Regions from separate parts of the Homo sapiens genome. Here region 1 is linked to region 2. Evidence: fine-mapped expression QTL. A gene starts in region 2. The other region holds a variant in brackets. All regions are shown on one strand. Distances are from middle to middle.

Region 1 (5,376 bases), 42 kb after region 2:
GATCATCTGCTCGTATTGGAAATAGTTTGCCCTCTGAATTAACCAGGTTAGAATTGGCAGTTTCTTCAGGGAGGCATTACTAATCAAACAGGCTCAGAATCAGAGGTCCAAGGAAAGAATGTTTATTTTGGTCAAATTCCAAGTTTATTGTGGGAGCCTTTGAGAGGAGCCGCAGACAGCCTTTCACTTTTGACCATAAAATGTTTTACTACAAGGATCATTATTCTTTAATCTTAAGTAAACTGATGAAAGGTATACTGACTGCAGTCTCTGGATTATAAGAACCAACCAGATTTGACTGTTGCCTGCCATGTTTCAACCACATAGATCGTCAGTGGTGTGTGGACGGGATTCCCTCTAGCTGTCTTGCTGGGAGTGAGGCTATGTAGTCCGGCCTGACTGAAGATGCCCTTGCGCACCAGGCTTTTGCAATGACTCCTGCCACCACTGGTCTTAAGGAAGAAGCATTTCTAGTTTATCTCTAATCTTTGCCTGATGATACATTGTTAGAAACCATTAGGCAGACAACAAAGCCAAGTTTTAACCAGGTCCTCATTACCAGAGTTTTTAGCACAGTGGTTCTCAACTGGGAACAAATTTTTTTTTTTTTTTTTTTTTTTTTTTTTGAGACAGAGTCTCGCTTTGTCACCCAGGCTGGAGTGCAGTGGCGTGATCTCGGGTCACTGCAAGCTCCGCCTCCCGGGTTCACACCATTCTCCTGCCTCAGCTTCCCGAGTAGCTGGGACTACAGGCGCCTGCCACCACACCCGGCTAATTTTTTGTATTTTTAGTAGAGCCGGGGTTTCACCGTGTTAGCCAGGATGGTCTCGATCTCCTGACCTTGTGATCCACCCGCCTCAGCCTCCCAAAGTGCTGGGATTACAGGCGTGAGCCACCGTGCCCGGCTGGGAACAAATTTTGCCACTCCCCTTCCCTGTGGACATTTGGCAATGTCTGGAGATATTTTCATTGTCATGACTGGCAGAAGTTGCTCAGGCATCTAGTGGGCAGAGGCCAGGGATGCTACTCACCATCCTGTAATGCACAGGGCATACCCCCAGCAAAGAATTCTCTAGCCAGAATGTCAACCACATGGAGGCTGAGAAACCTCAGCTTTAGCACTTGGCAATAATGCAGAATACACCTGTTCTTACCATAGGAAGCAACTGGCAGCCACTGCCCAGGACTTGGTCATGGTTGTCTTGTCAGTTGCAGCCCAGCATATCCGCCCTCTGGGACTGTGGCTTGACTGATGGACTCCCATCAGGGTCAGAATCTTGGTCCAGTAGTAGTATGTTTCTCATCTTTCTCAGTAAGCAGTGAGGAGTGTATCAGCTCCAAGTCCCCCAAGCCACGTAAGTAGCCTTGTGTGGTTCTAGCTCTGACACTGAGTGTGGAACGTAGGGCGACAGAGGCAGTGGTGAGGCTTTTGTGACAATACTGTTTATAATGGTTTCTGAGTTTTAAACATCCCCAAAGTGTCGTGCAAATGCAGGGAGGGGTTAATTAATCCTGAGAACTAATATTTGCCATCTAACAGTCCTGAAAGTAGTTCTTATGCGTGAGAGTTTACCTGCTGCTTGAACTGGGTGATCTCTCCATGTCTAATATAATAGTCTCCTTCAGCCCCCTTGAGTTTCTTTTGAACTGTATGCTGACTGCTACAAAATATGCACATAGTTGCATGTATTTAAATGGAGTTTAGTTGCTGCTGCTGAAAGTAATTCATTTTTCTTTAGTACAAGATATGGAGCAATTTTACGAACTATGGCTCAAGAGTCAAAAAAATGAAAAAAGTGAAGACATAGCCAGTCAGTCAAACAAGGAAAATGGAAAACAAATTCACATGCCAACAGATTATGCTGAAGTTACAGTGAGTACCGTGCGTCATTTACCCTCTCTTTGCCGAGCCATTGATGGAGCCTTTCTTTTCCCTTTTCTTTTTTTTGAGATGGAGTCTCGTTGTGTCACCAGGCTGGAGTGCAGTGGTGTGATTTCAGCTCACTGCAACCTCCGCCTCCCTGGTTCAAGCAATTCTCTTGCCTCAGCCTCCCAAGTAGCTGGGATTATAGGCTCGCGCCACCACGCCCAGCTAATTTTTGTATTTTTAGTAGAGATGGAGTTTCACCATGTTGGCCAGGATGGTCTCGAACTCCTGACCTCGTGATTTGCCTGCCTCGGCCTCCCAAAGTGCTGGGATTACAAGCGTGAGCCACCATGCCCGGCCTTTCTTTTCTTTCCCATCTTCTCCAAAACCCGGCTCCGTCACTCACTGCCTGCCCTTCTCTGTTCTGTGTCTTCATCTTCTCTCTCTAGTGGTTTCCTGCCACTAGCTTAAGTCTCCTCATGTGAAAAAATCCTTTCTTCAATCCTTCTGACTTTGGAGCCAGAGAATCATAAGTCCAAGTCCTGGTTTCTCTCCTTACTTGCCTGGCACCCTGGGTAGATTATTTATGTCTCCGAGTGGGGTTGTCCTGATGGATTAGTGAAGTATGAGGAGTCTGTGACTCTTCCCTAGTGGGAGGCCCCAGCAGGTGGCTCAGGAATGTGGGCTGTCTACCCCGCTGGACCTTACATTCCCCGCTTACGCCTGCAGTCTGGCCTCTCCCTCTATGGTTCTTGGGGACATTAAGTTACCAGTGGTCTGTTAACTGTTTTGGTTTTCTTTTAAAAATTTCAAAAAAGTGAAGAGGATACTATAACAAATATCTTGAGCCCACCATCGCAAGTTAACTGATGTTAACAATTTGTTGTAGTTCCTATTATAAAATAAATAAATGCCACAGATAAAGTTAGAACCCCATATGTTCCCCTCCCCAGGGGAACAGATCCAGTGTGTATTTTTCCAGGCCATGTTTACCTAAGGATGACACATTTATTCTATTTTTTTTTTTTTTTTTGAGATGGAGTCTTACTCTGTTGCCCAGGCTGGAGTGCAATGCGGTAGTCTTGGCTCACTGCAACCTCCGCCTCTCGGGTTCAAGCGATTCTCCTGCCTCAGCCTTCTAAATAGCAAGGGATTATAGGCGCCTGCCACCACGCCCGGCTAATTTTTTGTGTTTTTGGTAGAGACGGGGTTTCACCATGTTGGCCAGGCTGGTCTCAAACTCCTGAGCTTGTGATCCACCCGCCTCAGCCTTCCAAAACCGTGGGATTACAGGCATGAGCCACTGTGCCCGGCCAAC[A/C]CATGTATTCTTTTTTTTTTTTTTTTTTTTTGTGAGACGGAGTCTCGCTCTGTCGCCCAGGCACGAGTGCAATGATGTGATCTTGGCTCACTGCAACCTCTGCCTCTCAGGTTCAAGCAATTCTCCTGCCTCAGCCTCCCGTGTAGCTGGGACTACAGGTGCCGGCCACCACGCACGGCTAATTTTTGTATTTTTAGTAGAGACGGAGTTTCACCATGTTGGTCAGGCTGGTCTCAAACTCCTGACCTTGCGTGATCTGCCCGCCTCAGCCTCCCAAAGTGCTGGGATTACAGGCGTGAGCCACCGTGCCCAGCTACATTTATTCTTAAATAATCTATAGTTCCACTTGATGTGGTTTTAAAAGTTTACATAAGCATATGTGTTACTGCCCTTATTTCTTGTTTTTTGGCACCTCCGTCTCTCTGTTGATTCAGTCAGATCCAGTTTCATTGCCCATTGCAGGCCTTGTGTGTGGCCTGGCCTTGCCCAGCGTCTCTCTGCTTGTGACATGCCCTGTGAATGTTTACCTTTGTCACATTGATTCCCTTGCTACCTTTACTTAAGTGCTCCTTGGTGTTTATTTTATTATATATATATATATATTTTTTTTTCTTCCTTTTTTTTTTTTTTTTTGAGACAGGGTCTCACTCTGTCATCCAGGCCGGAGTACAGAGGCACAGTTATGGCTCACTGCAGCCACTACCTCCTGGGCTCAGGTGATCCTCCGACCTCAGCCTCCTCAGTAGCTAGGACTGCAGGTGCTCTCCACCATGCCTGGCTAATTTTTGTATTTTTTGTAGAGATGGGGATTTTGCCATGTTGCCCACGCTAGTCTGAAACTCCTGTGCTCAAGCACTCCTCCTGCCTCGGCCTCCCAAAGTGCTGTGATTATAGGCATGAGCCACTGCGCCCAACTGCTCCTTGGTGTTTCTAGAGCAGGTCACCTCGACTTGTTGGATCATAAGGCTTACCTGGGGCCGGGCATGGTGGTTCATGCCTGTAATCCCAGCAATTTGGGAGGCCGAGGCAGGTGGATCACCTAAGGTTAGGAGTTCAAGACCAGCTTGGCCAACTTGGTGAAACCCCTTCTCCACTAAAAATGCAAACAATTAGCTGGGCATGGTGGCAGGTGCCTGTAATCCCAGCTACTTAGGAGGCTGAGGCAGGAGAATTGCTTAAACCTGGGAGATGGAGGTTGCAGTGAGCCAAGATCGCATCACTCCACTCCAGCCTAAGCAACAGAGTGAGACTCTGTCTCAAAAATAAACAAATAAATAAATAAGGCCTACCTGGGGTGTTTCATAATAAGGAGTCTTAGAGCTGGGCGTGGTGGCTTGCACCTGTAATCCTAGCCACTCAGGAGGCTGAAGTGGGAGGACCACTTGAGCCCAGGAGTTCAAGGCTGCAGTGAGCTATGATCGCACCACCATACTCTAGCCTGGATGACAGCGAGACCATGTCTCTAAAAAAATAAAGTAATAAAAAGTCTTCATTTATACCCCACAATGAATGAGTTCAAATCTGTTTTTACCCAGTGTTGCAGATAATTATTGCCCAGGACATTTGGGAAATACTATCCAACACTTATAGTTTGCATCTGTTGTAGCACTTAAATCCCCTCATAACACTTCCTTTTGTATAGGTCTGTTCCCCACAGGGGCAGTGTCTTTAAATTCCTGATGCCACAGCAGTGGCTCAGTTCACGTACACTGAAGGGAGCTGCTGCTCGTCCTTTTGGAGTTGGCATGTCCTGGTCTTTCTCATCCTTTCTGCTTTTCCTCATGGTGTTAGTTCTTCCCTGAATCCTTGTTTGTACCTGCCTCTTGTTCTCCCAGCAAACATCCTTGTTTGCATACCAGCTCCTATTGCCTCTTTACCGGAGATTTCCTGGACAGCTGGCAGCATTTGTCACCCTTCTTCTCTGTGTCCTGAGTGCTGGCTTGCTTCCCCATGCTGTGGTCCTTTCCTTGTCCCTATTTCTAACCTGAGTTTTATGTCTTGCCTGGCTCTCCCACCAGCCTGGGCTCCCTGGAATTGAGTCTGGATCTCACATCAGGTGACTAATGGGACATGTGTCTTTGCTGCACATTAGGTGGACTTTCACTGCTGGATGTGTGGGAAAAACTGCAACAGTGAGAAGCAGTGGCAGGGCCACATCTCCTCCGAGAAGCACAAAGAGAAGGTTTTCCAC
Region 2 (5,376 bases):
ACTGCTTGGAAGATCAGATAGGGCGCTGTGTTAGTGAGCAACTTTTAGATGGGCTGTCAGTGAAGGCCTCTCCAAGAGAGGCTACTGTAGTTGAGGCCTGAATGATGAGCAGCCTCTGGTCACGAGAATAATCCACCCCTTTCTTTTTCTTATTTTGTTTTGAGACGGAGTCTCGCTGTGTCGCCCAGGCTGGAGTACAGTGGCGCGATCTCGACTCACCACAACCTCCACCTCCCAGGTTCAAGTGATTCTCCTGCCTCAGCCTCCCCAGGAGCTGGGATTACAGGCGCCTGCCTCCATGCTTGGCTAATTTTTGTATTTTTAGTAGAGACAGGGTTTCACCATGTTGGCCAAGCTGGTCTTGAACTTCTGACCTCGTGATCCCCCTGCCTCGGCCTCCCAAAGTGCTGGGATTATAGATGTGAGCCAGTGCGCCCGGTATAATCCACCCCTTTCTTAGAGGAGCTTCCCTAAAACCACAGCCCATCAGCTCTCCAATATCTGTTGCAGCACTTACCTGGTGTTACGGACTGAAACGCTCCCCGCTCCGCACATACCCACCCCGGAGTCCGTATGTTGAAGCTCTAACCCTAATATGGCTATTAGGCATATTAGGCAGTCATTAGGGTTAAATGAAGTCATAGGACCCTTATACTTTTTTTTTTTTTTTTGGTACAGACTCTCTCTCTCGCCCAATATGGAGTGCAATGGCGCGATCTCAGCTCACTGCAACCTCTGCCTCCCAGGTTCAAGCGATTCTCCTGCCTCAGCCTCCCGAGTAGCTGGGATTACATGTGCACGTCGCCATGCCCGGCTAATTTTTTGTATTTTAGTAAAGACGGGGTCTCATTGTGTTGCCCAGGCTGGTCTCCAACTCCTGAGCTCAGGCAATCCATCTGCCTCGGCTTCCCAAAGTGCTAGAATTACAGGCGTGAGCCACTGCGCCTGGCCTAATACGACTATTTGAATACGGCCTTTTAGGTAGTCACTGGGGTTAAATGAAGTCATAGGGTGGGGCCCTAATCTAGTAAAATTGTTGTTCTTGTAAGAAAAAGGAAGACACACCAGGGATTCCTGCTCACAGAGAAAAGGTCATAGGAGGACACAGTGAGAAGGCAGCTGTTTGCAAGCCAGGGAGAGAGGCCTCACCAGAAACCAGCCCTGCCGGCACCCAGACCTTAGATTTGCAGCCTCTAAAACTGTGAGAAAATAAATTCCTGTTGTCTAAGCTGCCTGGTCTGGGGTATTTTGTCATGGCAGCCTGAGCTAATACTCTGGTTTGTAAATCTACGTCACCCAGACCCCTGGAAGAGCTACTGTAGCTAGAGTCCCCACTTCCCCTCTTGTCTCTCCTACAGCCCAATCTCTGCATAGTAGCAGGAGAGAACTTTCTAAAATATAAATGAGACCTCGGAACTCCCAATTCAGACTCAATGAATGACCCCCTTCCACACAAAACTCCAAATTAAACATGGCGGCCCCCCTGTGTCACAGATCTTTCTCCCCTCTGGCACACATCAGCTATGCAGGCCTTTCCTGTTATCCAGACACCGAACTCCAGCTTCAGGGCTTTTGCACTCATTTCCCCTCTGCCTGCGGCACACTTCCCCGAACACGGTTGCATGGCTGTCACCTCCTCAGAGGCTTTCCCAAAAGCTCCTGTCACATCCTCCTGCTTGAATTTCTTTGGTCTTCACCGACCAAAATGGTCTTCTTTGGGCTCTTGTGGGTCCTGATCTCCGCCCTCCATCCCATGGGGCAGGGACCCTGCCTCGCCCACTGCTGAGCTGAGCATTTTACAAGAAGCCGTGCCCGCAGCGGGGCACCTGGCCGTAAAATGCAGATGGACGAGGCGGCATTTGGGCTGGGCCCTGAAGGACAGGGATCCAGGCCTTCCAAGAGCCGGCAGATGGAACTGGAGGGAGGCTGTCTTTGGATCCCCGGCTGCCGTGGGGCTCCGCGCCTCCGTTCCTCATATGTAGGAATGAAGACAATCACGGTTGTTCTGAGGATGCAGGGTTACTCTTCGCAGAGCAGGGCGCCCCGGTTGAGGGCTCGTCAAGCTAAGCAGGCTCCAGGGTGGGCTTCCCGATGCCGACTCTAGCTCCTCTCCCCGCTGGACGCTGTTCTACCTCCTAGCGCTTCTGCTCAGGCCGCGGCCCAGGCGAGGCCCCAGAAAACCCCGGTGCTGGTTAATCAGTCTTGAGTCCGAGCGCGTCCAGTGCGCAACGTGGCCTTCCCATTGGCTCACCCAGTGGGCCGCGCGTCGACGCCGGGGCTCCGGATTGAACGGCGCGCCCAGGTCCCTGCCCCCAGTCAGACGTGGCGCCACCGCCCCCAGCCCGTAGCTCCGGCGCAGCCAATGGCGGCGTCTCCCGGGCGGCAAGCGCGGCCTCCCGCCGCTAGAGGGCGCCGCCGCGGGCGCAACCGAGCCGCTGCCGCCGCCGCTAACCGAGGGAGAGCTGCGAGCGAGCACCCAGGCCCCGCCGCCGCCGCCGCCACCGCTGCCCGCCTGCCGCCGCCCGCCTCCGCCTGCCTTCTGCCGCCGGCCGGCGCGTCGTCCCCACAGGTAGGGGTAGGGGGACGCCGCCGGGCATGAAGGAAACGCGCGCGCCCGCGCCCCCGCCCCCCCCGCGCGCGCCGCCGCCTCGTGCTCGCGCGCGGCCGTTAACGGACGGCGGGCGGGGCGGGGGAGGGGCGGCGGGGTCCGGGGCCCGCGGACCCGAGAGGACCCTGAGAGGAGCCGGGCCGGGGCCTGTGCGCGCGGAGGGACGGGTGGGCGCGCCGTCCCCTTCCCCCACCGAGAATAACGTGACCCACTTCTGCCTGCCATTCCCTCGGCAAAATGTCTCCTTTTTGGTGATTTCACTAAAAAAAAATTTTTTTTTTGGTTATTTCTGTCTGCTCTGGTGATCGCGGGGATCCCGATTCAGCGTCTTGGGCTTGGGGGCGGGAAGGATGCCGGCGGAGAGCTTGGCGCATTAATTTGGGGCTCATCCGTCTTTTTTACCCCCCTTTCTGATTTTTTTATTTTTTCGCGCGGGGTGCAGCCCTGGGCCGGGCGGGGAGAGGCCTTGGGGTCCGCGGAGGCGGGGGCGCCGCCCGGGAGGACCGGGACCGGGACCTGTCAGTTCCCATTAGCGGGGCTTCCGGTCAGGCCTGGGCAGCAAAGGGGTGGGGCCGCCTGAGGCCCGGCCGGGGCCTCCGAGGTCGAGCCTGAGTCGGGACTGGGTGGATTTGCCAGGAGTTGGGTATTTTCCTGTCCCCACCTGTCTAGGGATGAAAAGGAGTTGCCCGTGTTCGGTATTGAACCACGAAGGACCTTGCCATGCCCAGTACGGTGGCCACTGACCCCCCGCCGTTTGGGACGATGGAGCCCACGAAATGGGGCCAGTTTCAGTTGCGGTCCCAGCTGTGAAACGTACATCTGATTTTAAAAACTTCGGATGAGAAAGAAAGTAAAAGATGTCATTGGTAATCTTTTATACTTAAATGCATGTTGAGATGGTCATGTTTGGGACAAATTGGATTAACGAAAATAGATCATTAAAATTAATCTTGGCAGGATGCAGTGGCTCATGCCTGTCATCCCAAAACTTTGGGAGGCTGAGGCAGGAGGATCGTTTGAGTGCAGGAGTTCAAGACCAGCCTCAGCAACATAGTGAGACCCCTGTCTCTACAAAAAATACAAAAAATTAACTGGGCGTGGTGGCGCACGCCGGTAGTCAGCTACTCGGGAAGCTGAGGTGGGAGAATCTGCTACTCGGAAGGCTGGGGTGGGAGAATCCCTTGAGCCCAGGAGATTGAGGCTTCGGTGAGCTGAGATTGTGCCTTTGTGCTCCAGCCTGGGACACTGTCTCAAAACAAACAAATAAAAAAACAAAAGTTAATCTCACTGCTTTTCTTTTTCTCTTTTTTTAGTGTGGCTATTTGGAAATTTAAAATGACATATACGGGCCGGGCGGGGTGGCTCAACGTCTGTAATCCCAGCACTTTGGGAGGCCGAGGTGTGTGGATCACCTGAGGTCAGGAATTCCGAGACCAGCCTGGCCAACATGGAGAAACCCCGTCTCTAGTAAAAATACAAAAATCAGCCAGGCGTGGTGGCAGGCGCCTGTAATCCCAGCTACTGGGGAGGCTGAGGCAGGAGAATCGTTTGAACCGGGAGGCAGAGGTTGCAGTGAGCCGAGATTGTGCCACTGCACTCCTCCCTGGGCAACAGAGCGAGACTCCCTCTCCACATACATGCGTACATACATACATACATACAATGACACGTATGGCTTATTTTGTGTAATATATTTTGTACAATATTTCGACTGGACAGCGCGCAGCTGGGGCATCTGAATGGGTGGTGGCCCTGAGAAGACATGTCTATCTGCTTATCTTTCCTGCTTCTCTGATGGCATGTGGCCTCCTTCCCTTAAGCTCTCAAAGAATCCACTGCCTCTTCCTTCTCATACTGAGCCAAACTGTTGAACTGAATTGCACAATGGGTCTTGTCCTAATTTGCAGAATAATTCAAGTTAATGGACAGTATTTTCCCTGTTGAAAAATTTTCCCTATCTGCTGTATGCTGGAGGCTACAAATAGTTGTATGAGGTTTGTCTCAGGATGAGATCATGAGTTGTTGAGGCTCAATATTATCAATATTTGTGCGTGTGTGTTTGTGTGTGTGTGTTTATTCTACAAAGAGCCCGTTGATTTTCTGCCATCCAAACGAAGTGGAGAATTCCTGCCTTTCTTCATGTTACTGTGACTTTTCGTTGGGGGTTTTACACAGACCTACACCCTCTTTCCTTCCCATTCCCCAGATTCTGTCAGTTTTTGCAAATAAGAATGGTGGCTTGTCAGCCACATTGTTCCACAATTCTTAGTTTTGACTGATTTTAAAACCTGCCAGTTGGGGTGGGTTAAATTGTCATTGTAAGTGGAAGAGAATCAATTATAGAAACTCTCAACTCCAGGGATGGTGAGAGTGACTGTTGGAAAGTTTTGAGCATTTCAGTAAAGGAAGAAAGAAACAAAAGACGTCTGTATCCTGTTGCCACAGATACCCTAGAAAGGGCTTTCTAGAGACAGTATGATGTGAGCAAACTTTTGTCTTCTGGATAACGTCTGGAAGTGTTCTGTTTTGTTTTGTTTTTTTTCTAGTGAAAATATTTTTCTCCAGAATCCTTATGAAAATTACTTAAAGTGTGAGGTGTTGGCAAATCAAGAAGAAATTTTAGATAATTTTTAAGGAGGAGAGAAGTATTAAAGTATTAATCCAGAAGTTTAAAAATTACTGCTAGTGATAACGTTTTAATTTACATGTACACAAAAGGCATATTAAATGAGGTGATTTTCGTTTATGTAAAGCAACGAGGTTACTTT

Evidence for each region. PIP is the estimated chance that this variant, and not a neighbour inherited with it, causes the effect. A credible set is the group of variants that fine-mapping cannot tell apart.
Region 1: its variant is the best candidate, but not a certain one, in a credible set for the expression of ZC3H7A in whole blood (TOPMed, PIP 0.68).

The regions. Positions count from the first base shown.
Region 1 is chr16:11,752,734-11,758,109 of GRCh38, reverse strand. ZC3H7A (zinc finger CCCH-type containing 7A) reads left to right here. Exons shown (of 23, transcript NM_014153.4): 21 at 1,740-1,873; 22 at 5,278-5,376. Among named protein-coding and RNA genes, the nearest start is that of TXNDC11-AS1, 12 kb to the right of the region's middle. The variant A/C (reference allele first, on the strand shown) is at 3,186.
Region 2 is chr16:11,794,317-11,799,692 of GRCh38, reverse strand. It overlaps ZC3H7A (zinc finger CCCH-type containing 7A), which reads left to right and starts at 2,435. Exons shown (of 23, transcript NM_014153.4): 1 at 2,435-2,569. RefSeq lists silencers at 2,152-2,561, 3,044-3,203 and an enhancer at 2,199-2,736.